Linked DNA regions of Homo sapiens. The protein of the gene in region 4 purifies or fractionates together with the protein of the main gene of each other region. This does not show direct contact. Each region holds a gene or a part of one and is shown on either strand. Other genes may lie near its edges. The genes, in order: ZNF304, ADCK5, PRELID3B, RCN2, FKBP10, OPA3 and ZNF546.

What was found.
Region 1: the proteins of RCN2 (region 4) and ZNF304 purify together in Homo sapiens (co-immunoprecipitation; one large-scale study listed by IntAct). This does not show direct contact.
Region 2: the proteins of RCN2 (region 4) and ADCK5 purify together in Homo sapiens (co-immunoprecipitation; one large-scale study listed by IntAct). This does not show direct contact.
Region 3: the proteins of RCN2 (region 4) and PRELID3B purify together in Homo sapiens (co-immunoprecipitation; one large-scale study listed by IntAct). This does not show direct contact.
Region 5: the proteins of RCN2 (region 4) and FKBP10 fractionate together in Homo sapiens (co-fractionation; one large-scale study listed by BioGRID). This does not show direct contact.
Region 6: the proteins of RCN2 (region 4) and OPA3 purify together in Homo sapiens (co-immunoprecipitation; one large-scale study listed by IntAct). This does not show direct contact.
Region 7: the proteins of RCN2 (region 4) and ZNF546 purify together in Homo sapiens (co-immunoprecipitation; one large-scale study listed by IntAct). This does not show direct contact.

Annotation. Positions count from the first base shown.
Region 1 is NC_000019.10:57,349,993-57,354,070, reverse strand, and holds the start of ZNF304 (zinc finger protein 304), read right to left. Parts: upstream 2,801-4,078; 5' UTR 2,407-2,800; coding exon 2,374-2,406; intron 1,417-2,373; exon of another isoform or gene 1,336-1,416; intron 347-1,335; coding exon 220-346; intron 1-219. UniProt on the Homo sapiens protein: Acts as a transcriptional regulator and plays a role in gene silencing.
Region 2 is NC_000008.11:144,377,047-144,380,546, forward strand, and holds part of ADCK5 (uncharacterized aarF domain-containing protein kinase 5), read left to right. Parts: intron 1-350; exon of another isoform or gene 351-444; intron 445-2,340; coding exon 2,341-2,444; intron 2,445-3,500. UniProt on the Homo sapiens protein: The function of this protein is not yet clear. It is not known if it has protein kinase activity and what type of substrate it would phosphorylate (Ser, Thr or Tyr).
Region 3 is NC_000020.11:59,036,287-59,039,786, forward strand, and holds part of PRELID3B (PRELI domain containing protein 3B), read right to left. Parts: intron 2,349-3,500; coding exon 2,180-2,348; intron 995-2,179; coding exon 905-994; intron 475-904; coding exon 404-474; intron 288-403; coding exon 185-287; intron 1-184.
Region 4 is NC_000015.10:76,951,821-76,954,893, reverse strand, and holds the end of RCN2 (reticulocalbin-2 isoform a precursor), read right to left. Parts: 3' UTR 501-3,073; downstream 1-500.
Region 5 is NC_000017.11:41,816,004-41,819,503, reverse strand, and holds part of FKBP10 (peptidyl-prolyl cis-trans isomerase FKBP10 precursor), read right to left. Parts: intron 2,447-3,500; coding exon 2,301-2,446; intron 1,416-2,300; coding exon 1,226-1,415; intron 1,123-1,225; coding exon 977-1,122; intron 295-976; coding exon 105-294; intron 1-104. UniProt on the Homo sapiens protein: PPIases accelerate the folding of proteins during protein synthesis.
Region 6 is NC_000019.10:45,550,303-45,553,802, forward strand, and holds part of OPA3 (optic atrophy 3 protein), read right to left. Parts: coding exon 3,212-3,500; 3' UTR 1-3,211. UniProt on the Homo sapiens protein: May play some role in mitochondrial processes.
Region 7 is NC_000019.10:40,017,560-40,021,059, forward strand, and holds the end of ZNF546 (zinc finger protein 546), read left to right. Parts: 3' UTR 1-3,479; downstream 3,480-3,500. UniProt on the Homo sapiens protein: May be involved in transcriptional regulation.

The DNA.
Region 1 (4,078 bases), on a different chromosome or scaffold from region 4:
CAACACTGCACTGTAGCCTGGGTGACAGAGTAAGACTCTCTGAAAAAACAAAAAACAAAAAACAAAAAAAAAACCCTCAAAATAATAAACAACAAAAAATGCTCTAACCAGATTACCAATGCACTGAAACTGGAGAGATAATTGATTTTTATTGTTTGCAGTTACTAAGCTTTGGGATAATTTGCCATGTAGCATTAGATAACTAAAACACAGACTTACCTAGTGTAGCCACAAGTGCAAAGTTCTCCAGCATCACATCACGGTACAGGAATCTCTGTGCCTCCTCAAGGAGTTCCCACTCCTCCCGAGAGAAGTACACGAACACATCCTCGAAGGTCACACAACTCTGCCATGATAAGTACAGCTGAGTCCACAGTCAGCATCTCTCCCCAGAACCCCCTCCTCCCCAGTCTACACACTCACACACCCACTCTCTAGTCCCTCGCCTCCCCAGCCTCCCAACTAAGAGGAGATAACAGACCTTGGCACCACTAGTGTCTGCTCTCTCCTCATGTCCCTCTCACCACTGTGTCCAGCCCAGAGCAGAACCAGGCAAGTGTGCAGACAGATGCTGTCTCAACTCTGGGTCTGGCATGAAGGGTCCCAAATACTCGCCTACCAACCAGTTCTCCTGGTGTTGTCCAGACGATGCCTCTAAACACAACCAAACTTCAGCTCCATCTTCTCCCATGAGCTGCCAATACTAGAGTCTTAAGGGCATCAGTTCACACTCCTCCCAACGTGCTCATTACTCTTTGGACTACACCTTCCTCACATCTGAGATCCCCACCGCCACTGGCCCATGCCATATGCACCTCCATGACATCCCTCATCCCCCATGCCACTCTGCAAGCAGTGTCCAGGAAGCGCTCGCGTCTTCACACTATCCACCACTGCCGTCCAGGTGCCTAAGCAACAGACCCAGTTTTCTCTCAGTGTCCAGTTTCAACTTTCTTACTGAATAACAGCATTACCACCATGATTTGAAGATACCCCATCCCACTCCACACACTGGCCACCATTTTTTTCAACTTCTTCAACAGAACCCTTCCCCAGAACTAAAAACCTGTGTGTTTTCCTGAGGCCTCAACTAAGATGACAACTGAGACCTCTTAACCTAAACATGACCAAAGCCTAACTCCTGATATAACCACTAAAAATCATACCTGCTGCCAACTTCTCTATCTCAGTTGATGGCATTTTCATAATTTTACCAGCTACAGCAAAAACAAACCAACCTTAGGGTCATCCACGACTCTCCTCTCTTTCACCTTTCGCATCAAAAAATCCAATCACCCTACTTTAAAAAACAGAAAATTTACCAACTTCTCTCACCTCCACAGCCACACCTCTAGACCAGACACCATCAACACTACTGCAGTAGCTGCTCCCTCATGCTCACAGTCTGTTCTCAACCTGAAAGCCAGAGAGAGCATGTTAAAATCTGAGTCAGATCATCTCCCTCCTCTGCTCCAAATCTCCCACGACTTTTACCACACTCAAGACACCTCGGCCAGCCATTCCTGCCTAACTCCTTCCTCTGATACCTGTTTCCAACAAAGGTAATTAAGACCTGAGATTCCCTGAGCGCTCCAAACTCAATCCTACAAGCATTTGAGCGTACCTGTTCCTAGGTCTGATATACTTTTGCAGTACTCATCCCATTGGTCGCCAGGTGGGGACTTCTCCACATAACTCCATACAACTCATGGCCTGGATTCAGGACACTAAACTAGAAATGACCTCCATTCACTGCCCCCTGTCTCAAGTGAAGACAGTCATGTGAAGAATCCCAGGATATCATCACTATGTCTCATCAGAGAATCTGGTCAGCCTTCCTTATAAAATACATACAAAACCCAAAACCCATACATTCTCTAACCTCTGCTGCCACCACTCTGGCCCAGACCATCAACGCTCACCTGGACTATTTCAGTAGACTTCATCTTGATCTCCCCGTCTACCCTATAATCCCTAGTCTACCCACTCTGCAGCCAGAGGGAGCCTTTTAAGAACTGCGTCAGAGGACCTCCCTTCTCTGTACCAAACCTTGCATGACTCCCAGCACCCTCAGAAGAGAGGACCAGCTCCTCGGGCGGCCATTCCAGGCCTACCTCTGACCCCCTAGTCCCTGTTCTCACCAGGCACAGAGAGTTCCCGGAACTCCCCAAACTCATTCTCCTCTCCATGCATGCATTTGTACGAACTGCCCCTGCGCCTTCGAGTCCGTTCCACACCTTATGCCACTGATGAGGGGAGCGGAACCCCTCCACATAATGCGACGGAGTGAGCACCCTGAAGTGCGCGATGAGAGCGAACATCCCAGGACACACCAACCAGGCCGGGGTGCGCTTGAGGGATGCCCCCACTCACCTGAACCCGGTCCATCAGCACCGCCGCTGCCATGAGAAGCGGATGAACAGTCTGTGCCCTGTGGGCTCAGCCGAAACCCCACGCCTCCACCGCGCTGGACGCCCTCGGGCTGAGTGTAGCACTCCAAGTCTCAATCTACCCGGTGTAAAAACGCTCACAAGACTAAGGCGGCTGCTTCTGGGGGAGACAAGGACAAGAGGACGTGTGTGGAGGCCTCGGTAAGAGCCCAGCCCCGGCAGACACCTCCGCGAGAGGCCGCCCGTCCCACGACAGGGGTCATGGATTGTAACAAAAGCGCGAAGGAAGGTCCTGCAGTCTTCACTGTCTTTCTTTGCTAGGTTCCACGAGAGCCGCGTAGAAAGCCGACCCGATCTCTAGAACTCAGCCTTCACAACCAGAATGCACGGACCGGGCATAGGAAAAATACGTCACGACGGCGACGCCAGAAGTCTCGCCCCTGCAGCCCAGAGCAGCAGGAAACGCCCAGTTTCTGGGCTGTCATTGGCTGCACGCCGGCTAACAATGAGCTGGGCACAGATTTCTGGGTAACGTAGTTTGTACCCTGCATCCAACCAGGCAACGAGCGCCTTTCGGGTTCTCCCGGATGTCTGCCAAGAGGCGTCGTGCAGGGAGGGGGAGAAAAGACTGGGAAAACGATATCTCGGAGGCCACAGCTGCTTTTAAAGGGTATGCACCCTGATTTCCATGGCCACCTGGGACAATGCCACGCCACTGAAGTCGCCAGCAAGGGACCCATTCTTCAATCCTGCTTCTGAGGCCCTGGGAAACCTGCTTCACCTCTCTCAGATTTGGGGATTGAAACGTATTAATAAATTGAACGTTGTCTGTATTTCGTTTGTGGGCCTTTTTGTAAAACATTGAATGTCCTTCTAATTTTTCTAACATATAAAGAAAAGAGATGTAATTAGCTACCTTTCTGCTGGCTGTACAGGAAGCATGGTGCCCGTATCTGCTTCTGGTGAGGCCACAGGGAACTTTTATTCATGGCGAAAAGTGAAGGAGGAACTTACATGTAACATGACGAAAACATGAGCCTCTTCTAATTCATTGCTTCCCAATTTGATATGTAGTTTTACAGCATCAGCTTCACTATGAACTTAAAAAACCTGTGAATTCTTGGACCCAACCTATACCTTCTGATAAACTCTGGGGATGGGACCCTAGCTGAAGTTCAAGAACTGGAGGTCTTTTAAAGTCATTAGCCAAAAACAAAACAAAACAAAAACAAACAAAAAAAAATCAGTAAGATGAAAAACACTACAACCAACCTCATTAGGAATATGGGAAGTGAGGTAAAAAGTACTTAACACCAGGCCTGGCACATCGTGCTAAATACATACAAGCTGTTATCAGTCTTCCTCAACACAAGGTTCTCACATACACTGCTTTAGGAAGATAAATCAAAGATCCACCTTTTCAGGATCAGTGTGATTTTGAAAAAAAAAGAAAAAAGTACAATTATTCCCTCACTCATCAAATAGCATCATAGATAATAGTTATAATTTTTTTTTGAGACAGAGTTTCACTCTTGTTGCCCAGGCTTAAGTGCAATGGCACGATCTCAGCTCACTGCAACCTCTCCCTCCCAGGTTCAAGCGATTCTCCTGCCTCGGCCTCCCGAGTAGCTGGGATTACAAGCATCCGCCACCATGCCCGGCTAATTTTGTATTTTTAGTAGAGATGG
Region 2 (3,500 bases), on a different chromosome or scaffold from region 4:
AGTTCCTTACTAGGTCCAGTGTTGAGGACCATGTTAGCGTCTGTGCCACGGGGCATGACTGGCTATGCACAGTCCTTTCCACCCAAACCGTGACTTGTGTGAAGAGCTCTCAGTTGGGGAATTTGGGGAGTTGTGAGACCTCATCCTAGGTCAAGTGTGATTGGGAGACCAAGGTTTCCAGTGAGAGCTGTGGTGTTTTCTTTCTTTTTTTTAATAATACTGTAAGTTCTATGTGGTGTTTTCATAGTCACAAAAATAAAGCAGGGCCATGTGTCAAGAGTCTCATGGTGGGGCTTCTTTATTTATGTATTTATTTTTCTAAATGGAGTCCCATTCTGTTGCCCAGGCTGGAGTGCAGTGTCTCAATCTTGGCTCACTGCAATCTCCGCCTACCAAGATCAAGCGATTCTCCTGTCTCAGCCTCCCAACTACCTGGGATTACAGGTATGCGCCATCACACCTGGCTACTTTTTTTGTATTTCTAGTAGAGACAGGGTTTCGCCATGTTGGCCAGGATGGTCTTAATCTCCTGACCTCATGATCCACCCGCTTTGGCCTCCAAAAGTGCTGGGATTACGGGCGTGAGCCACCGCGCCTGACCCTTGGGACTTCTTTACGTGTGTCCTGCTAGCTGCAGCATGTCCTCTTCTCCTCCAAGTAAAAGATGTACAGGGTCCCTGTCTGTGGGGTCTCAGTAAGTTGTAAGTTTCTTCATCTGCTTTCAGAACAGTGACCTACGTAGGCCACTCCTCCCATCCGGGCGTCCACCTTCAAGGTTGGCGTCTGCTGTATGATTCCATGGCTGGGCACTGTTGCCACTTCCTTCGGAGATGAGGACTGCTTTCCTCTGGCCACTGGTCAGTGGTCTCAGCAGCAGGAAATAGTAAAATAGTAAATGACAGGTCAGGGTGCTGCCAAGAGAGTGCAGGGGCAGGGATGGGGTGGGTCCCATCCCAGATGAGCCAGATGGTGATGCCATCTCTTCCTGCAGAGACTGAGGGGACATTCAGAGACGGGGTATGTTTGATGCCCTGTCAGCATCTGAGGCATCAGCCCTGGTTAAGCTGCGTTTAGCCTTCTCTCCTATGATACTTTGACACTCAGCCTTGCTCCCAGGAGGTAGGATAGTGTTTCCATTACGGAATCAAAGATGGGAACCTGGCTTCCTGGCATGATCCCAGCGGTGCTGGCAGTCTTTGCTGACTGACTTGGTGATGTGGTTTGGCTTTGTGTCCCCACCCAAAGCTCATCTGAGTCGCGATTCCCAGTGTTGGAGGAGGGGCCTGGTGGGAGGTGATCTGGTCATGGGGGCAGATTCCCCCTTGCTGTTGTGGTGATAGTGAGTGAGTTCTCAGATCTGATGGTTTAAAAGTGTGTGTGGCACTTTCCCCTTTGCCCTCTCGCTTGCTCTCTCTCTCTCTCCGCCCCCCCCACTGCTTCACCCATACTGTGCTTGCTTCCCATTTGCCTTCTGCCATGACTGTAAGTTTCCTGAGGCCTCTCAGTGGTGCTTCCTGGACAGCCTGCAGAACTGTGAGTCAGTTAAACCCAGGCCAGGTGCGGTGGCTTACACCTGTAATACCAGCACTTTGGGAGGCTGAGGAGGGCAGATCACTTGAGGTCAGGAGTTCTAGACCAGCCTGGCCAACATGGTGAAACTCCGTCTCTACTAAAATACAAAAATTAGCTGGATGTGGTGGCGTATGCTTGTAGTCCCAGCTACTCGGGGGGCTGGGGCAAGAGAATCACTTGAACTCGGGAGGCGGAGATTGTAGTGAGCCGAGATTGTGCCATTGCACTCCAGCCTGGGCGACAGAGTGAGACTCCATCTCAGAAAAACAAACAAACCTATTTTCTTCATAAATTACCCAGTCTTGCTTGGGTAGTTCTTTTTTTTTTTTTCTTGAGATGGAGTTTCGCTCTGTTGCCCAGGCTGGAGTGTAGTGGCGCGATTTCAGCTCACTGCAACCTCTGCCTCCCGGGTTCAAGCGATTCTCCTGCCTCAGCCTCCCGAGTAGCTGGGATTACGTACATGCACCACTATGCCCAACTAATTTTGTATTTTTAGTAGAGACGGGGTTTCACCATGTTGATCAGGCTGGTCTCAAACTCCTGGCCTCAGATGATCCACCCGCCTCGGCCTCCTAAAGTTCTGGGATTAAAGGTGTGAGCCCCTGTGCCCGGCCTGGGTAGTTCTTTAGAGCAGTGTGAGAATGGACTCACACATTAGGTTTAGAGTTAGGCTGCCTCAGACTCCAGCACATGTAAGTGCTGGTACTGGTTGAGGGCAGGGGCGTGTCCTGGCCTCGTTCGACCCCACACAATTTCCTCTCTTTGCAGGTGCAGCTCTGTCATTTCCACTCTGCTCTGCTGCACAGCAGGCAGAAGCCCTGGCCGTCCCCTGCTGTGTTCTTCAGGAGAAACGTCAGGGGCCTTCCTCCAAGGTAACGAGTCCTCCACGGGCATGCGCCTCTCACCCAGGCAGGCATGGATGGCGTCTGTGTGCATGCAGAGGTGGCAGTCGAGGGCCCAAGGCTGGACCTTCTCCTGTACCCACAACCAAGGCAGGATATGTTTGCTCCTCAGTGCGGTGCACTGGGACCAAAGACCCCCAGGGACCCATGGGACCGTGCTCAGGGGTGGGCACACCCTGATCACAGCATTTAGAGCAGACAGCTAGCAAATCGGGAAGGGTGCACATGGAGCGCCTGCTCTGAAGAGCAAACCGGGTCATTCAGAGCATGGAGGAGGGCGGGGTGACTATAGGTGGGAGTCACACAAGAGGAAGAGCAGCAAGAAGAGATGTGGAGGGATGGGTCTGAGCAGAAGGAAAGGCCAGACAATGTCCTGAGGCCAGCAAGTCCGGACCACAGTGCGCAGATGGACGGTGGCAAGGCAGGAAGGCCGTGGAGGGTAGATGTGGCCAGGCAGGGCAGGCAGGGTGAGCTGTCCAAGCGCCACTGGCTCAGTGAACCTGGCAGGGGTCTCCTTCTCCCGAGAGCTCTGCAGTAGGACAACCTGTGTCCCTGGGACAGATGCGGCCAGCTACAGAAACAGATGGGTGCTCAGGCGCCTGCGGCTGGGTGCAGAAACAGATGTGCACTCAGACACCTGCTGCACTCAGGATTATGGGCCGGGTGTAGAAACAGATGTGTGCTCAGGCACCTGCTGCACTAAGGATTATGGGCCGGGTGTAGAAACAGATGTGTGCTCAGGCACCTCCCGCAGTCAGAATTATGGGCCGGGTGTAGAAACAGATGTGTGCTCAGGCACCTCCCGCAGTCAGAATTATGGGCCAGGTGTAGAAACAGATGTGTGCTCAGGCACCTGCCGCAGTCAGGATTATGGGCCGGGTGTAGAAACAGATGTGTGCTCAGGCACCTGCTGCACTCAGGATTATGGGCTGGGTGTAGAAACAGATGTGTGCTCAGGCACCTGCTGCACTCAGGATTATGGGCTGGGTGTAGAAACAGATGTGTGCTCAGGCGCCTGCTGCACTC
Region 3 (3,500 bases), on a different chromosome or scaffold from region 4:
AAAGGCTAAAAGTTAGAGCTTGGATGTGAACCCAGAGCCTTTGTAAGTAACTGCCCAACGTGCTGCAGTTTCCTATGGTAGAATGGGCAAGGGTCAGCTTACAAGGACACACATGCAGTCAGCACCCCATTCCATTCCCAGGAAATGAACCAGGGAATAATAACCAAGAAGCAGCCTCACTTACTTTACTAGCATTTGAGGATATCGTACTTGCCATCAGTCCTTCAAGGTAACTGCTGAGGCTAACTCCTTTCACGGTAATTATGGCTTCTTGTGTCAAAACAGTTCTGGAACAAAACATATTCACACAGGTTCAGATGACCCAGCTTTCATTTTCAAAAAACTTGATAAAAAAACCTTAAACACCCTTTACGATACATTTGTTAAAATATTTTTTACTCACTTTTCTGGATCCTGAGGATGTGGTTTGTATATAAGTCTCTCATCTACTGAAACCATGTTTGTAAATGAAATCTACAGAATGAAGAAAAAAAAAAAAGATCAAATCATTTTGGAACTGAAGATTCAAAATGTTGCTAAAATCAACACACAAGCCAAAATCTTACTAAACATACAAAACAACAAATAAACCGCTGCTATTATTGCATAAACTATTCACTGCCTACTTTTTATTTAAAAAGCAAAGTTGAGGAAATAAAGTATAATAATGATAATACACATAATCCCAAACTCATTTTATTGAGTGCTATCCCCTTAGAGATAGGCAAGATCATGAGAGCAGGAAGGGTAAGGAAGCAACATCCAGGGCCAAGTTAGGCCAGCACATAAGCAGGGATTCTCTGAACCACATCATGAACACGCACTCACTTCTACGGCAACTAGGAGAGGGACAAAGAACTCAGCCAGACAGTTCGAAATGAAACAAAAGGGAGCCAAGACTTACATTAGTAGATTTAAGTTCCATTGTTTTCTCTACAGGATCAACTACAGAATGTTCTTGCACATATGTTTTCGTTCTTGCTGCACCAATAAGCTAAGTAAAACATTCAGAACTAGGAATCAGAGGAGGAAGAATTTCTTACCAAGTCTATCAATATTTTATTTGAAGGAAAAAATGTGTTACAATATTTTGAACCAAAAATCTGTTTTCTAAAAACCAGAGGAAACAAGCAAAGGTCAGAAAGGAGGCCTATTCACATATCATGGATGAGAGGAGACTGCCAGACACAAAAACTTTTCCCGGAGGCAATTAGAAACCAGCCCACTGAGAACGTCTGCAACGTGAGGCAGCACGCTGAATCTGCCGCGGTGCGACGGTGGAGCGCTGAGGCTGAGATATGGAAATCAGGTTTGGGGCAACATGGCAGCTAGAAAAAGGAGAACTCAAAGGCATCTGTCAGTATCTTCCTAGAACAGCCCAAGGGAGGGGGCACCTCAGCTTCATTCTCCAGACAGAAAAACAGCGTTCTTACGATGGAGGCTCACACGTCAGTGTCCACTGTCACTCCCTGTGCTATGACCCCAAGCCCACCCCCTGACCCTGCTCATTTCTGTGTCTGCACTATGGTTTGCATAAGGAGGCAGTAAGTACATTCCTATTGAAAATGTGTACTTTAGTTTTCTTAGTGAACCTACTCTCCATAAAGAGACCCTCTAAAGAAACCTGGATCCACTTATTATACCAGTTTTCTCGCATTATGGTAAACTGGCATTTTAGTTTCTTCCTGGTAAAATCTGCTCACTAAAGCCTGCTCATTCTTAAGGGAATAGAATTGTTTCTAAATGTACAGGAAGGAGTTCCAGACCTTGGAACAAATGTGGCAATAACAAGTCCGAGAACATAGTCCTTACTTAATGTACACAACCCACCACTGACCACAGAACTGTCACCTAACAATTATGACCAGACCATTACTGCCAAACCTTAGTATTGGTCTCAAGTTGCTGGCAAAAGCAGAAAAAGCAGAATAGAACTCCTTTCAGATCACACGGCATTAGCTGGCTTCCTTAAGAAAATTTTATTGGGTGCCTTCATGAAGACTGTAATAATATTTCCAATTCATTATACACTCATAATTCAAGTTTATTATAATACAACTTGAACGGATGCAAAAAATGACATTCAGAATCGGCTCCCACAACCTATTTGAAAGTATAATGCGGTTTAGAAAACTTCTCTACAGCAGTCACATTTCTCCGGGAATAAAGACACACTTACAGACTTCACAATGGAAGGCAGTCCCCACTCTGTGCTGAGAAGTCTGTGGCTGTGCAACTTTCCAGAGGGATCTATATGTCTGTCCAACACATCAACTCCAACCACACTTGGGTTCATAGGGTTTGGGTATTTCTGCATTGCAGCTGTTGTAACAGTTTCCCACGGGTGGCTGCCGATGTGAACCAAAAAAAAAAAAAAAAAAATTCAGACATTTAAAATTATGCATATGAGTTAAACAATTTTTATAATCTATCAAATCATTCATTACAATGTAAGTTTAATGAGTTTACCTAGGAAAAATTACCTTCTGAAACACTGATGATTATGGGAAACTGATCTACATTTTTAACAGGCTTCAGTATTTTTCCACAATACAGGCTATGTAAAAAAACTCATATCTATAAAGATCAAAGCAGTCTACACCATCTTTCCTACTTATCCTTATCCACTTTCACATGTAAATTGTTTCTAGGAAGAACCAATGATTCATGAAAATGTATTTAAAAATTATGTTCTACTGAAACAAATAGCCAAAAGTATCATTATGCCATTTATTATTTTTTCTGACCCCAATTCTATCAGTTTATACGGAAGTAACAAAAGTAAAAGAGTTTATGGGCACTATAAATTCTTACAGGGATCACAAAAAGATCCAAAGCATTGATTTAATTATTGAACTTTCCCTTCATTTTAATGTAATACATAACAATGGCTCCTCCAGTCAATCTTTATCTACTGTTTTTCTCAAAAGAGTGATTCTGATTTCTGTTTTGAAAAGGTCACTCAATATAATAAAATGTCCTTAAGGTGCACTCCTAATATACTATTTTCTAATATTCTCTTTTAATATAATAAGCACTTGCTTATCACCTAGTATTGAAGTGGTAATAATATCACATCACTTGAGAACTTGCAGTATCTTTATTTTCTTCAAAAAGGCACATGTGCTTGGATGATTCAAAATGTGATGCAACCTTTGTTCACTTCACAACTTCTGTGAATAAGACACTTGTACAAAAAATATCATTTTCAAAAGGACCCCTTATTAAGTACAATCAGTATTAAAGGTGACTTAGTCCACCTGCAGTCTGATTCGGATGCTTTCTACACTACTTATCTGTGCTCTCATCTTCATTTAAAGGAAAAAGACAAGATCTGGGGATGATGTTCAAGCCACAATGACTGTTAAGCCACACAGCATTACTTTTTATTTTTCTAAAAGTAAAACAAGTAGACATTATTCCAACCTTTTAGAGAACTCAGATTGACAACTACATCTCGTTGACAAAAGGAAAATCTCAACTCCATTAATTTCCCAGAA
Region 4 (3,073 bases):
GACAGGCCAGCAGCTGGCACAAAAAGACCTTAGTTTATGCTTTTAGTGTGTCATTGTAATGGAACAGTCTCTCTACTTAGGTTACCAATCACTGCTAATGGTACAATAACTGAGCAAAATGTTGATGCCCTCTGTTCATTGGAACCTGGTCTCAGAAGAAAAATATCTCTGTGGAACAGAAAGCAAAAGTAGGGTTTTTTTCTTTAAGGTATGAAAAATCATGATTAAAAGCTATGAGATTTTTAAAAATCCCCATAATCACTTTAAAATAGTTTTATAAGCTCAAATGGTTTCCTTTCTACAGCTCAGGAACTAACTGGTTAATTTGAGATAAAGATAGGGCAAACTGTAGGTATTCAGCAGTACTTGTTTTTTTTGTGCTTGGATTGAGGTGTTTCCCCCCCCCCCCGCCAAATAAAATAGAGACGTTTTAGTAGCTGCACTGGAGGCCCTTAGGTAATTGGTTACTAGTTATAAAAAATTTTATAGCAGGCAGGAAATCTGGCCAAATATTTATTCGACAGAACTCAAATGTTGCAATGAAGCAAATTAGTTTTTACAGTTGTTTAAAAACTTTTACTCTAAGTGGCTTTCCTAAATCATCTTCCTAAGTGAAAAAGTGTAAGTTTGAGTTGACATTTCTCACTCAAAAGGAGGTATTGTAACACAAAAACGTTTGAGAAACAATAGCATACATTTATCCTCACATTTAAATTGCAAAGGAATGATATTCTGGAACAGGCAAAACTGTAGAGACAGACCATTAGGGAAATGCAAATCAAAGCCACAACGAGATACCACGTCTCACCCAACAGGATGGCTACTATTAAAAAAAAAAAAGAAAAAAAAAAAAACAGAAAATAGCAAGTGTTGGTAAGGATGTAAAGAAACTGGAACTCTTGTGCACTATTGGTGGAAATGCAAAATGGCACAGCTGCTGTGGGAAACACTATGGCAGTTCCTCAAAATATTAAAAATAGAATTACTAGTCGGGCGCGGTGGCTCACGCCTGTAATCCCAGCACTTTGGGAGGCCAAGGCGGGCGGATCACGAGGTCAGCAGATCAAGACCATCCTGGCTAACACGGTGAAACCCCGTCTCTACTAAAAATACAAAAAATTAGCCGGGTGCGGTGGCAGGCGCCTATAGTCCCAGCTACTCGGGAGGCTGAGGCAGGAGAATGGTGTGAACCCGGGAGGCGGAGCCTGCAGTGAGCCGAGATCGCGCCACTGCACTCCAGCCTGGGCGACAGAGCGAGACTCCGTCTCAAAAAAAAAAAAAAAAAAAAAAAAAAAAAAAATATATATATATATATATATATATATATATATATATATAGAATTACTATATGATCCAGCAATCCCACTTCTATGTATAATATATATCCAAAAGAACTAAAAGCAGGATCTCAAAGAAATATTTGTACACCCATATTCATGGCAGCATTATTCACAATAAAAGGTGGAAGCAACCTGTGTCCATCAAAGGGTGAATGGATAAGCAAAATGTGGTATATGCAAACAATAAAGTATTGTTCAGCCTGACGAAAGAAATTCTGGTAACAATATGGGTGAACTTTGGGGACGTTATGCTAAGTGAAGCCACTCACAAAAAGACAAATACTATATGAGTCTATTTTAATAGACACAAACTAGAATGGGGCTGGGCGCGGTGGCTCATGCCCGTAATCTCAGCACTTTGGGAGGCCGAGGCAGGTGGATCACCTGAGGTCAAGAGTTCGAGACCAGCCATGCCAACATGGCGAAACCCCGTCTCTACTAAAAGTACAAAAATTAGCCGGGCGTGGTAGCGGGCATCTATAATCCCAGCTACTTGGGAGGCTGAGGCAGGAGAATCGCTTGAACCTGGGAGGTGGAGGTTGCAGTGAGCCGAGATCGCACCACTGCACTCCAGCCTGGATGACAAGAGTGAGACTCCGTCTCAAAAAAGAAAGAAAAAGAAAACTAGAATGGGAGGCTGGGCACGGTGGCTCACGCCTGTAATTCCAGCACTTTGGGAGGCTGAGGCAGGTGGATCACCTGAGATCAGGAGTTCGAGACCAGCTTGACCAACATGGTGAAACCCCATTTCTACTAAATACAAAAAATTAGGGGGCATGGTGGTGCCCGCCTGTAATCCCACCTAGTCGGGAGGCTGAGGCAGGAGAATCGCTTGACCCCAAGAGACAGAGGTTGCAGTGAGCCGAAATCATGCCATTGCACTCCAGCCTGGGCAACAAGAGCAAGACTCCATCTCAAACAAAAAAACTAGAATGGTGTTTGCCAGGTGCTGAAGGGAAGGGGAAAGGGGGCTTTATTGTTTAATGGGTATAAATTTCCGTTTTACAAATGAAGTTCATGGAGATGGAAGGTGGTAATAGTTTCACATTTTGACTGTATTTAATACCATACCACCGAACTGTACAATTAAAAACTGTTAAGATGAATTTTGTTATGTGTATTTTACTACAATCTAAAAAATTATGAACAGTAAAAAGATCAGTATTGCTTGGGGTTACAGGGAAGGGAGGGATGAATAGGTGGAGCAGAAAGACTTTAGGGCAAGGGAAATATTCTACCACACTACAATGGTGGGAATATGTAATTATACATTTGTCCAAACCCAGAGCATGTGCAGCACCAAGAGTGAACCCTAATGTAAACTATGCACTTTGGGTGACAATGATATGTTAACAGTTTCATCGATTTTAACAAATGTACCACTCTGGTAGGTACTATCTCATGACATATAGGATAGGATAGTGGGGGAGGCTGTACGTATGTGGGGCAGGGGACATATTGAAACTCTCTATACTACTTTTTGCTCAATTTTGCTGTGAACATAAAACTACACTAAAAAAAAAAAAAGCCTATTTTTAAAACTGCAAAGGAAAGAACTAAGTAAGGCAAACATGATATGCTAGCTTTTCCTCTGAACGTCCTGGCTTCCTTTAAATTTATATCATAATCTAGACATCATTTTCTGTCCTGCAAATTGGCCCAATCAGAACTACATATGAGCCAACATGTGCACATCCCATTCAATTTTCCCCTTTGAAGTTGTACCTGAACTC
Region 5 (3,500 bases), on a different chromosome or scaffold from region 4:
AAGGGAGTCAAAGGGGCCCTCCCCTTCCAGGCAGCTCAGAGTGACCCCCAGCTTCGTCCACGTTTCACCCAGCCCCCGCCCTCCCACCTCAAGACCCTCCTGACCTGGAATCGAAGAGGGTGCCGTCCATCAAGGAGCCATTGTAGTGGTAGCGCATGAAGTCCCCGGCCCCGGCTCTGCGGACACAGCCGGGGGGGAGCTCCAGCGTCTCTAGCTGGACAGCGTCCTTCGGGTTGTGCACGTCAATCAGGAGGACGTGAAAGACCAGCGAGGCCTGTGGGGGGATCACTGTCCCTGGGGAAGGGATAGGGCTTGAACCATAAAATTGGGGAGCAAGCCGAGGCTCCTTCTTGACTCAGGAAGGCCCAGTGGGCACCATGCAAGACACTAGCCCCACTCTCCAGAGCCCTTTCCCGCCCATCAGCAGCCCTGCTTCTTGCTCCTCCAGTAAGACCTGAGCTGGGTTTTCCCCAGGGCCACCACCGGCTCATACTGAGCCTTCGTGTGAATCAGAATAAAGCACCCCTTCTTTTTTTTTTTTTTTTTTTGAGACAGAGTCTCGCTCTGTCACCCAGGCTGGAGTGCAGTGGCGCGATCTCGGCTCACTGCAAGCTCCGCCTCCCGGGTTCACGTCATTTTCCTGCCTCAGCCTCTCCGAGTAGCTGGGACTACAGGCGCCCCCACCACGCCCGGCTAATTTTTTTGTATTTTTAGTAGAGACGGGGTTTCACCGTGGTCTCGATCTCCTGACCTCGTGATCCTCCCGCCTTGGCTTCCCAAAGTGCTGGGATTACAAGCGTGAGCCACCACGCCCGGCCAAAGCACCCCTTCTTAGTAGCACCAAGGGTAGATTTCATCCCACCTTGAGTCCTTGGTTGGATGCCCTCGTGCAGTATACAACCTGAGCAACTGTATGTGGAGGCCTGGTTTTTCCCTCTTCTGCGGAATTTCCCCTTGTGTCCTTGCCCACCCTCACCATAGCCTTTCTCGCCATAGGCCAGGAATGGAGGGATGATAATCTTCCTTCTCTCTCCAGGACACATGCCCAGCAGCCCCTGGTCCATGCCCTTGATCAGCCAACCAGAGCCGACGTAGGTGTCATAAGTGCCGCCCTTACTGTAGCTGCAGAAAATGAGGTGGAGGTGGGAGAGGCAGGCTGGGCCCCGGATTCCCGCTCCCCATGCCACAGTCCCCAGTGCCTCAGGGCTCCCCTCCAGCCCCTCACCTGGTGTCGAAGGAGGTGCCGTCCAGCAGGGTGCCATTGTAGTGGTAGCGGACAAAGTCGCCGTCCTGGACCATGCGGGGGCAGTGGGGCGGGCGCAGCAATGTGCTCACCTGCACGGTGTCTTCCTTGTTCCACACATCCAGCAGAACCACATCGAAGTAGAGGGTGGCATCCGGTGGAATGAGCCCCGCTGTGAGAGCGCAGCAGCGTGGAGGTCTCAGAGTTCTGCTCTGCCAACCACGATCCCAGCCAGGGCCCTGTTATTCCCCTTCCTCTCATCCCAGCACCAAGAGACCCAAACCAGGGACAGAGATGCCACTATTTTTGTTTTTTTTTTTTAAGAGATAGGGGGCCAGACACAGTGGCTCATGCCTGTTATCCCAGCACTGTGGGAGGCCAAGGCAGGTGGATGGCTTGAGCCCAGGAGTTCAAGACCAGCCTGCGCAACATGGCGAAACCCCATCTCTACTAAAAATACAAAAAATTAGCCACGTGTGGTGGTGTGCACCTGTAGTCCCAGCTATTTGGGAGGCTGAGAGGGAGGACTGCTTGAGCCCAGGAGGCTGAGGTTGCAGTGAGCCGAGATCGCACCACTAAACTCCAGCCTGTGCAACAGAGTGAGATGCTGTCTCAAAAAAAAAAAGAAAAAGAAAAAAAGAGGGGTTTTGCTCTGTCACACAGGGTGGAATTCAGTGGCATGATCATGGCTCACTGCAGCCTCCCGGGGTCAAGCAATCCTCCCACCTGAGCCTTCTGAGTAGTTGGGACTACAGGCACACACCACCACACCTGGATAATTTATTTTATTTTTTGTAGAGACGAGGTCTCACTATGTTGCCTAGGCTGGTCTGGAACTCCTGGGTTCAAGCAATCCTCCCACCTCGGCCTCCCAAAACTCTGGGACCATATATGTCAGCTACTGCCCCAGCCAGAGCTGCCACTCTTCATACTGCGTGCACAGTGTGACATTGGGCAAGTCACTCCTCATCTCCGCACTTCAGTTTTCTCACCCCAGGATCCCTGATTCTGCCTCGTGGTCTCCTCCACCCCCGGCCTGTGCCCCAGCCCTTCTCACCCAGGCCGATGCTCCCATAGCCCAGGTGGGGAGGCACAATGAGGCGTCGCCGCTCGTTGACACACATGCCCATGAGGCCTCGGTCCATGCCAGTGATGAGGCGCCCCACACCCACCACGATGGCCACCAAGGTGTTGCGATCATAGCTGGGGGGGGAGGGACAGATGGGATACAGTGACCTCAGACACACACACACTGCCCATGGTGGCACAGATGCACAGGTGTGCCTGCACACACGCACACAATCCCCCCTCCCTATAGCCAGGTGTGGATACGCACACACACTTCTCACCTCCTTTTCAAGTCCCCCTCCTAGGTCGGCCGTGACGCCCACCTTAAGAGAACGGACTGTTGTGAAAGGCAAGTCCCTGAGGAGGACAAGGGCTGCTATTGCCCTGGGACGGGGTTGGGTGGGATGCCCGGGCCTGATGGCTGCTACTATTTGCTGACAGCAAGTGGGGAGTGGTACGTACAGCACGGAGGGGCAGAGGAGCATTACTATATGGGATTAAATGCTTGGCATTTTACATTCCGTATCTTCTTTGTCTCCCCTGTGAGGTGGGCATTCTTGTTCTCATTTTTCTTAATGAGAGCAATGGAGACTTGAGAGACTCAGTGCCTTGCCCAAGGTCACACAGCTAATATGTAGTCAGCTGAGTTCTAAAATTTGCCATTATACTATTGGCTCTCCAAGAAAAGACGGGAGAGCAGAGGTGGGGTGGGAGCTGGTTTCACATTTTGAAAAGGCCTATTCTACAATCCTGGCTAACACAGTGAAACCCCGTCTTTACTAAAAATACAAAACATTAGCCAGGTGTGGTGGCGGGCGCCTGTAGTCCCAGTTACTCAGGAGGCTGAGGCAGGAGAATGGCGTGAACCCGGGAGGCGGAGGTTGCAATGAGCCGAAATCGTGCCACTGGACTCCAGCCTGGCGACAGAGTGAGACTCCCTCTCAAAAAAAAAAAAAAAAAAAAAAGCCTATTCTAAAAGTGCCATGGCTTTTGTTTGTTTTTAGTTATACACTTTTAATTAATGTATTTATTTTTACTTATACATATGTATTTTTGGAGATGGAGTCTCGGCTCTGTCACCCAGGCTGGAGTGCAGTGGTGCAATCAGCTCACTGCAACCTCCACCTCCCGGGTTTAAGCGATTCTCCTGCCTCAGCCTCCGAAGTAGCAGCTGGGATCACAGGCATGC
Region 6 (3,500 bases), on a different chromosome or scaffold from region 4:
GGCCCTCCCACTTTCACCTGCAGCTTCCCAAAAGCGGGCCCAGGTGGAATGGTCACCCAGTTTACACAATGCTATGATCTCTGGTGTGATCTGGGGCTGCTCTGAGAGGGGATAGAGAGGGTCTCCCACTATCAACGCCACCTCTGGGATGGTCTGGGCCTCTGTGTAGAGATCGTCACCCTCCCAGCCTCTGCTCAGCCATCGCCTCTCCCTCCTCACTCTGCAGCTGGGGTAATCCAAGCCTCTCACTCTGCCCCTACTACTTCACCACCCTGGGCAGTCAGCCCCTCACTGGCTGTGGCATCTCTGGCAAGTCCCTTTGCTTACCCCTGGCCTTAGTTTCCCCAGCTCATAGGGTGACTCTTGGGCCTCTCCCCATCAGAACCCTCCCAGTTTCCCTCCTGATTTTAATAAGCTCTGTACCCATTGTGGAGATCCACATGGTGGTTCAGGTACAGCCTCAGGATGCCTTCATCACCTTGCAGCTCCTCTAATGAGAGAGCTACAGTCGGAAGGACAGACTGCAGGCTACTGGGACCCACCCCCTCCCGCTTCAGTGGCAGATCCTGGAAGAGAAACCCAGTAGAAAAGGGTGGTTCCTAGACTGTTCCTCTCAGCTAGCAGGAAGGCCAAATGGCCCGCGGGGTTGGCAGGAGTCCCAGGGTACTTTTTTTCTGAGAAAGGGTCTCACTCTGTCATCCAGGCTGGAGTGTAGTGGCGCGATCACGGCTCGCTGCAGCCTCGACCTCCAGGGCTCAGGTGATCCTCCTGCCTCAGCCTCCCAAGTAGCTGGGACTACAGGCATGCATCACCGCACCTGGCTAATTTTTTATTTTACTTTTGTAGAGATGGGGTCTCACTATGTTGCCCAGGCTGGTCTTCAGCTCCTGGGCTCAAAGAGATCCCTCCTGCCCTGGTCTCCCAAAGTGCTGGGATTACAGGTGTGAGCCACTGCACCTGGACGCCAGCGTACTCTTGGGGTGAGGAGGAATAGTGGGCTGAATGGCTTGAATGGTGTGCCCCCAACAGACAAGTCCACATACTAACCCCCAGGACCTGTGCTTATGACAGTTTATTTGGAAAAAGTGTTTTTTCAGATGTAATTAAGGGTCTTGAGGTGGGATCATCCTGAACTTAAGATGGGCCCTAAATGCAATGACAGGTGTTCTTGTAAGAGACAAAATAGAAGAGGGAAAAGGCCATGTGAAGCTGCAGGCAGAGCCAAGGAAGGCCTGGAATCACCAGGAGCTGGAAGAGGGAGCGTGTCCCTGTCAGCACCTTGGTTTCAGACTTCTGGACTCCAGAACTGTGTGAATTAAATTCCTGTTGGACTTAAGCCATCAAGTTCACCACCCAATGGTGATCTGTTATGGCAGTCCAAGGAAATTAATCAAGCAGTTAAGGCCAACTGCTGGCCTAATTGGTAGGATGGGGGTGGGACCGGGGGCTATGGAGGCAGGAGGGTACTGCTACATGAAGACAGGCTGTCGGGTCAGTCCAGAGCTCCGAGGAAAGAAAGCAAGAGCACACAGATTAGGAGACACGGATGGAAGATGAAGGATGTGACAATTGAATCCATGGGCTTGGATTCGACTGGGTCCCTGAGAAATGCTACTGAGCAAGGTGGGGAAGGCAAGAAAGGACATGCCACACAGTACAAGCTCCAGGGACTCTGAGGACAGGAAAATAGGGGGCTGAGGCTGAAGGACAGGCTGGATTAGCCCTAGTTAGGATCAAATTTCCCACCACGGAAAGGGGGGTTGGAGGACATTCACAGAAAAGATCCTGTAGTGCCATTCCAGTGGGTTGTGCCATAGACTCAAGGATGAGGGGGTTCTGTTGGAATAGTCCACTTCGGGTCTCAAGGGAAGGTACAATGATTCCAGGGATTGACTGCAGGCCAGGACCTTTTGTGGGTTTTTTTAAGATGGAGTTTTGCTCGTTACCCAGGCTGGCATGCAATTGCGCAATCTCGGCTCACTGCAACCTCTGCCTCCCGGGTTCAAGCAATTCTCCTGTCTCAGCCTCCCAAGTAGCTGGGATTACAGGTGCATGCCACCATGCCCAGCTAATTTATGTATTTTTAGTAGAGACGGGGTTTCATCATATTGGTCAGGCTGGTCTCGAGCTCCCGATCTCCCGACCTCCCGACTTCAAATGACCCGCCCACCTCGACCTTCCAAAGTGCTGGGATTGCAGGTGTGAGCCACCGTGCCCAGCCAGGATTTTTTTTTTTTTTTTGAGACACAGTCTTGCTCTGTCACCCGGGCTGGAATACAGTGGTACAATCTTGGCCTCCACCTCCCAAGTTCAAGCAATTCTCCTGCCTCAGCCTCCCAAGTAGCTAGGATTACAGGCACCCACCACCACGCCCGGTTAACTTTTGGTTTTAAGACGGTGTCTTGCTCTGTTGCCCAGGCTAGGGTGCAATGGTGCCATCTTGGCTCACCGCAACCTCCACCTCATGGGTTCAAGCAATTCTCCTGCCTCAGCCTCCCGAGTAGCTGGGATTACAAGCGCACCCCACCACACCCGGCTAATTTTTGTATTTTTAGTAGAGACGGAGTTTCACCATGTTGGCCAGGCTGGTCTGGAACTCCTGACCTCAAGTGATCCGCCCGCCTCGGCCTCCCAAGGTGCTAGGATTACAGGCGTGAGCCACCGCTCCCAGCCGCACCGTTTTTTTCCTCCTTAAGAGAGCACTGATGCTCAGCTAGAGCTGACCTTAGAAGGTGAGGGGGAGAAAAGGCCACTGCAACACACTGCATTTCCTTACAGTGGTCTGTGCCGATTGACAAAAAGAAGAAGGTGTTCCAGTGTAACAGATGAGTGTCCCAGTAAAGGTTAACACTGATCAGGTAAACCGGGGGTGGGGGTAACAATAACACATTGATTCAGCTCAAGACCAGGTTCCATTTTTTCATTTGCCAGAGTGCCCACGGTGTCCTGCTGGCTGGGACCTTGCAGGTCGTCCTGGTTTGGAGTGGGGGATAGGAGGTGAAGGATGATGGAGGGGGCTATGTTGCAACGCTTCACCTGCTGGTCCCAGTGGCAGGTAACGGCTGCTCTTATCAGCAGGGGTAACCAAATGCCAAGTTGCATCAAGATCCTGGTGGTTTCCACTGGGCCAGCGCAGGCAAGGGTGGTGCGGGAAGAAGGCCACGTTAGGTACATAGGCCATGTCCAAATTCAGGTTCCATCCAGCAAGCTCCTATTTCTTGGACGCAGGCACTGCGTGGGAAGCGGACCGGCCGGGATTGCAGAGCTGGGCGCGCACCTCTTGCAGCTCTGTGCGCAGTTCCTCCAGGGCGCCCTGTGGCGGCGCCGCCTGCACCTGCGCCTGCAGCGCTTCCAGCGCCAGCGCCAGGTGGCCCACCTCGTCCCGCAGCGCGTTCCAGGCAGCACGCTGCTCCTCCTCCTTGTGGCGCTGCTGCGCCTGGTGGCGCCAGTACTCCAGCACTAGGCAGCCGCCGCCCACGATGAAGATGGTGGCTTCGCCC
Region 7 (3,500 bases), on a different chromosome or scaffold from region 4:
AACCTGTCTGTGCCCCAGGGCAGCTTTGAATGCAGTCCAACAGAAATTTGTAAGCTGTCTTAAAACATGAGATTTTTTTTGTGATTTTTTTTAAGCTCATCCGCCATTGTTAGCACATTTTATGTGTAGCCCAAGATAATTCTTCTTCCAGTGTAACCCAGGGAAGCCAAAAGATTTGACCCCCAGTAACTTCACACCTAAGGAGATTAGCAATAATTCCATAATCTGTAATATTCAGTCTGTGTTCATATTCTCAGTTGTGTTCATTCTTTTCATTTGTGTAAACAATGCTTTTCATAGGTTATTTTTAAATTCAGGAACCAAATTCATGAATTACATTTGTGCATTGTTCGTCTCTTTTAAAGTAAGAATGGCCCTTCCCCCCACAACTTTATTGCAACATTGACTTTTTTTTTTTTTTTTTTTTTTTTTTTTTGAGATGGAGTCTCTGTCGCCCAGGCTGGAGTGCAGTGGTGCGATCTTGGCTCACTGCAAGCTCCGCCTCCCGGGTTCAGGCAATTCTGCCTCAGCCTCCCCAGTAGCTGGGACTACAGGCGCCTTCAACCATGCCCGGCTAATTTTTTGTATTTTTAGTAGAGACGGGGTTTCACCATGTTAGCCAGGACGGTCTCGATCTCCTGACCTGGTGATCTGCCCGCCTCAGCCTCCCAAAGTGCTGGGATTACAGGCATGAGCCACCGCACCCGGCCTTCCCAAAGTATTTTTAAATGTGCTTTTTTATCCCCAGTATTTCCCATTAACTGGAATTTGGGATTAGAGACCCAATTAGGGACAGATTAAATATTTTGGCAAGAATACTTAATGGGAGAAATTTTGTATTTCAATTTGTAACCCATTAGGTGGCATACAATGTCATTATACCACTATGGTATCCTTAGTTCATTCACTTGGTGTAGCAGAACATACATTCCAAAGATGGCCACACCAATATATCCCATTCTGCATGTTCATCTTACAATGTGATACCAACACTCCCCAAGAGGTAGAGCTCATGGTCCTTCCTTTTGAATCTGGCCAGGTGGGCCTGTGTTTATGGCAGGAATAACACTGTGATTTCCACGACTAAGTCATAAAAGGCAATACAGCTTCTGCCTGACCCACTTGGGATGAAGCCCAGCCACCATGCTATGAAGATGCCAAGTAATCACATAGAAAAGCTAAGTAAAGCTGTCCTGATTACAGCTGTAATTGAGGTAACAGCCGGGATCCAGCACCAAGTGTATGAGGGTATGAGCCTTCAGATGATTCTAACCCTTAGCCTTCAGGCTATCCTAGCTGGTGCTAAGTGGAGCAGAGAAAAGCTTTCCCCCATGAGCCTGCCCAAATTGCAGATTTACGTTTAAAATATGGCCTGTTTTAAGCCACTAAGTTTTGGAGTAGTTTGCCACACAGCGATAGGTAACTGAAATACTTGCTTCATATGGTAATCACCAGGTTTCTCTGTTGTAGAGCTAAATATTTCTTTTAATTTAGTAAACGATCTGTAGAGTAGTACTTTGGCATTTCGGAAATTTAAAATCTCCAATAATATAATGACACTAGATCAAAAAGAAAATGAAACCATAAAGGACAATTTAGAAATGAATGGTAAGATCAGAATTTGTGAATGTGGCCAAACCTGTGCTCAGTGAAAAATCAGTAACCTGTTAATATATTCAGGAAACAAATATTGAGGGCCAGCACTTTGTTTCTCCTGCTCACCACTCTACTCCCAGTGACTTAATACTGTCTCTTTAACATAGTAATCACTTATAAAACTGTTAAAAGAATGAAGAAGCATTAAACTCAAGAAACTAAGGGAAAAATAAGTCAATATAAGAAAGAAGGGAGGATCATTAAAAGGAGTTAATGAATTTGAAAATAAAATAGACTTATTAAGGCTTTGTGAAAAAATATTAATACTTGATTTTAGTATAGCTAATCAAAGGAAAAAGATAATTACAGCATTGTGAATGAGAATTGGATGTAAGTACAGATGGAGGAGATATTTTTTGTTTTATTGAAAATTTCAAGGAGGAAGTAATATCAAAATTTCACTAGCTCTTTCTACACTGATATTATAATCCTGATAATACAACAGATGAGGATAGTTCTTAAAAGGCAAAAATGTAGGTGAGTCATTACGAAGAAAGCAGAAATTCTAAACCATCAGCACATTCATTCAAAAACCTAGTAAAGCAATTAAGCAAAATAATTTGTTTACTTGGACTGTCCAGGGATAGATCTGTTCTAGTTTTCCAAATTAATGATGGGAAAGGAAGAGCTGATCCAGTCCAAGTATCTTCAAGATCCATGTTCTCAGTTTTTCTTAGCTTTAAATGGCCAAATTGTGGCTTAGATTGGATATGATAATTTCCTCAATGCTTAACACTGAGCACAATTTTTCACATATTTGAAATCAAGGTGTATCTTACAATTTATGGCATCTGACAATACTTCCAACCAGGTGGCAGTCATCAAGCAGTTTTGTGAAAAGCCTTCCCGGTAAGAATACAAAAGCATCTGCACCAAAATATATAGATTTAATGGCATGTAGGGGTTTGCGTGAATATATACAGTTGAAATTCAATTCTTCCTTAAAAATAATTGTAACTCATTTCTTTAAGACTACCATACTACCACTTTCCTCAACTTGGACTAATGTCCATTGTCAACCAAAATGTCTGTGATCTCATGGATCCATTATGATTTGCAACTCCAGGTCCATTTTATGCAAATAAGACAGCCATAATATATCATTGTACAAGTCATTTACTATCTAATTATATCATTGCTCAACATTTGCAAATTATTTTTACAAATAACAATAATTGGATGTAACAAAAAGCAGAGTATTTTGAGACGTATATTAATGCAAAATATTGTTAATGTATCAGTGGATTGTTCCTCCAAAGTACCAGTGCCTTAACACAACATATCTAAAAGAACATCTCTGGGAACAGTAGTACTTAATGGCAACTTGAGAATTGGTTTGTGGGCACACAGCCTTGTGAAGTTTTGAATACTAAATCCCTTTTTTAAAAAAGTGCTTATTATCAGGCTATCAATCAAAAGATTTGAGTCTTTCAGTAAAGAAAATTTGCTTAATTTTATCTAGTGCATGATAAACTTTACTAAGGAAGTCTCATTCAGAATATCTAATATTTTGGATGTGAGCCCACACTGGAAATGCCATAACCAAAAAAGAGTGACCCTAAAGATAGAATATTCAGATCTAATGGCAGATGCTTAGCTATGCTGGGAAAGGAAGTGAATTGTATATTGCTCTGCTGCTCACATATTCCTCTGCAATAAATTGCTGGCCCAGTTTAGTTTTTATATACTCACTACTATACTAATGAGGATGGCTCAATTTTTTATTTGAACGTACTATAATGAATTTAAACTTTCATTGGTATTTATGTTTTAACAGGTTTTCACTATTTCAAATATACTTCAATAAATATCCTTGTCTGTGATCATTGGTTTATGTGAATTGG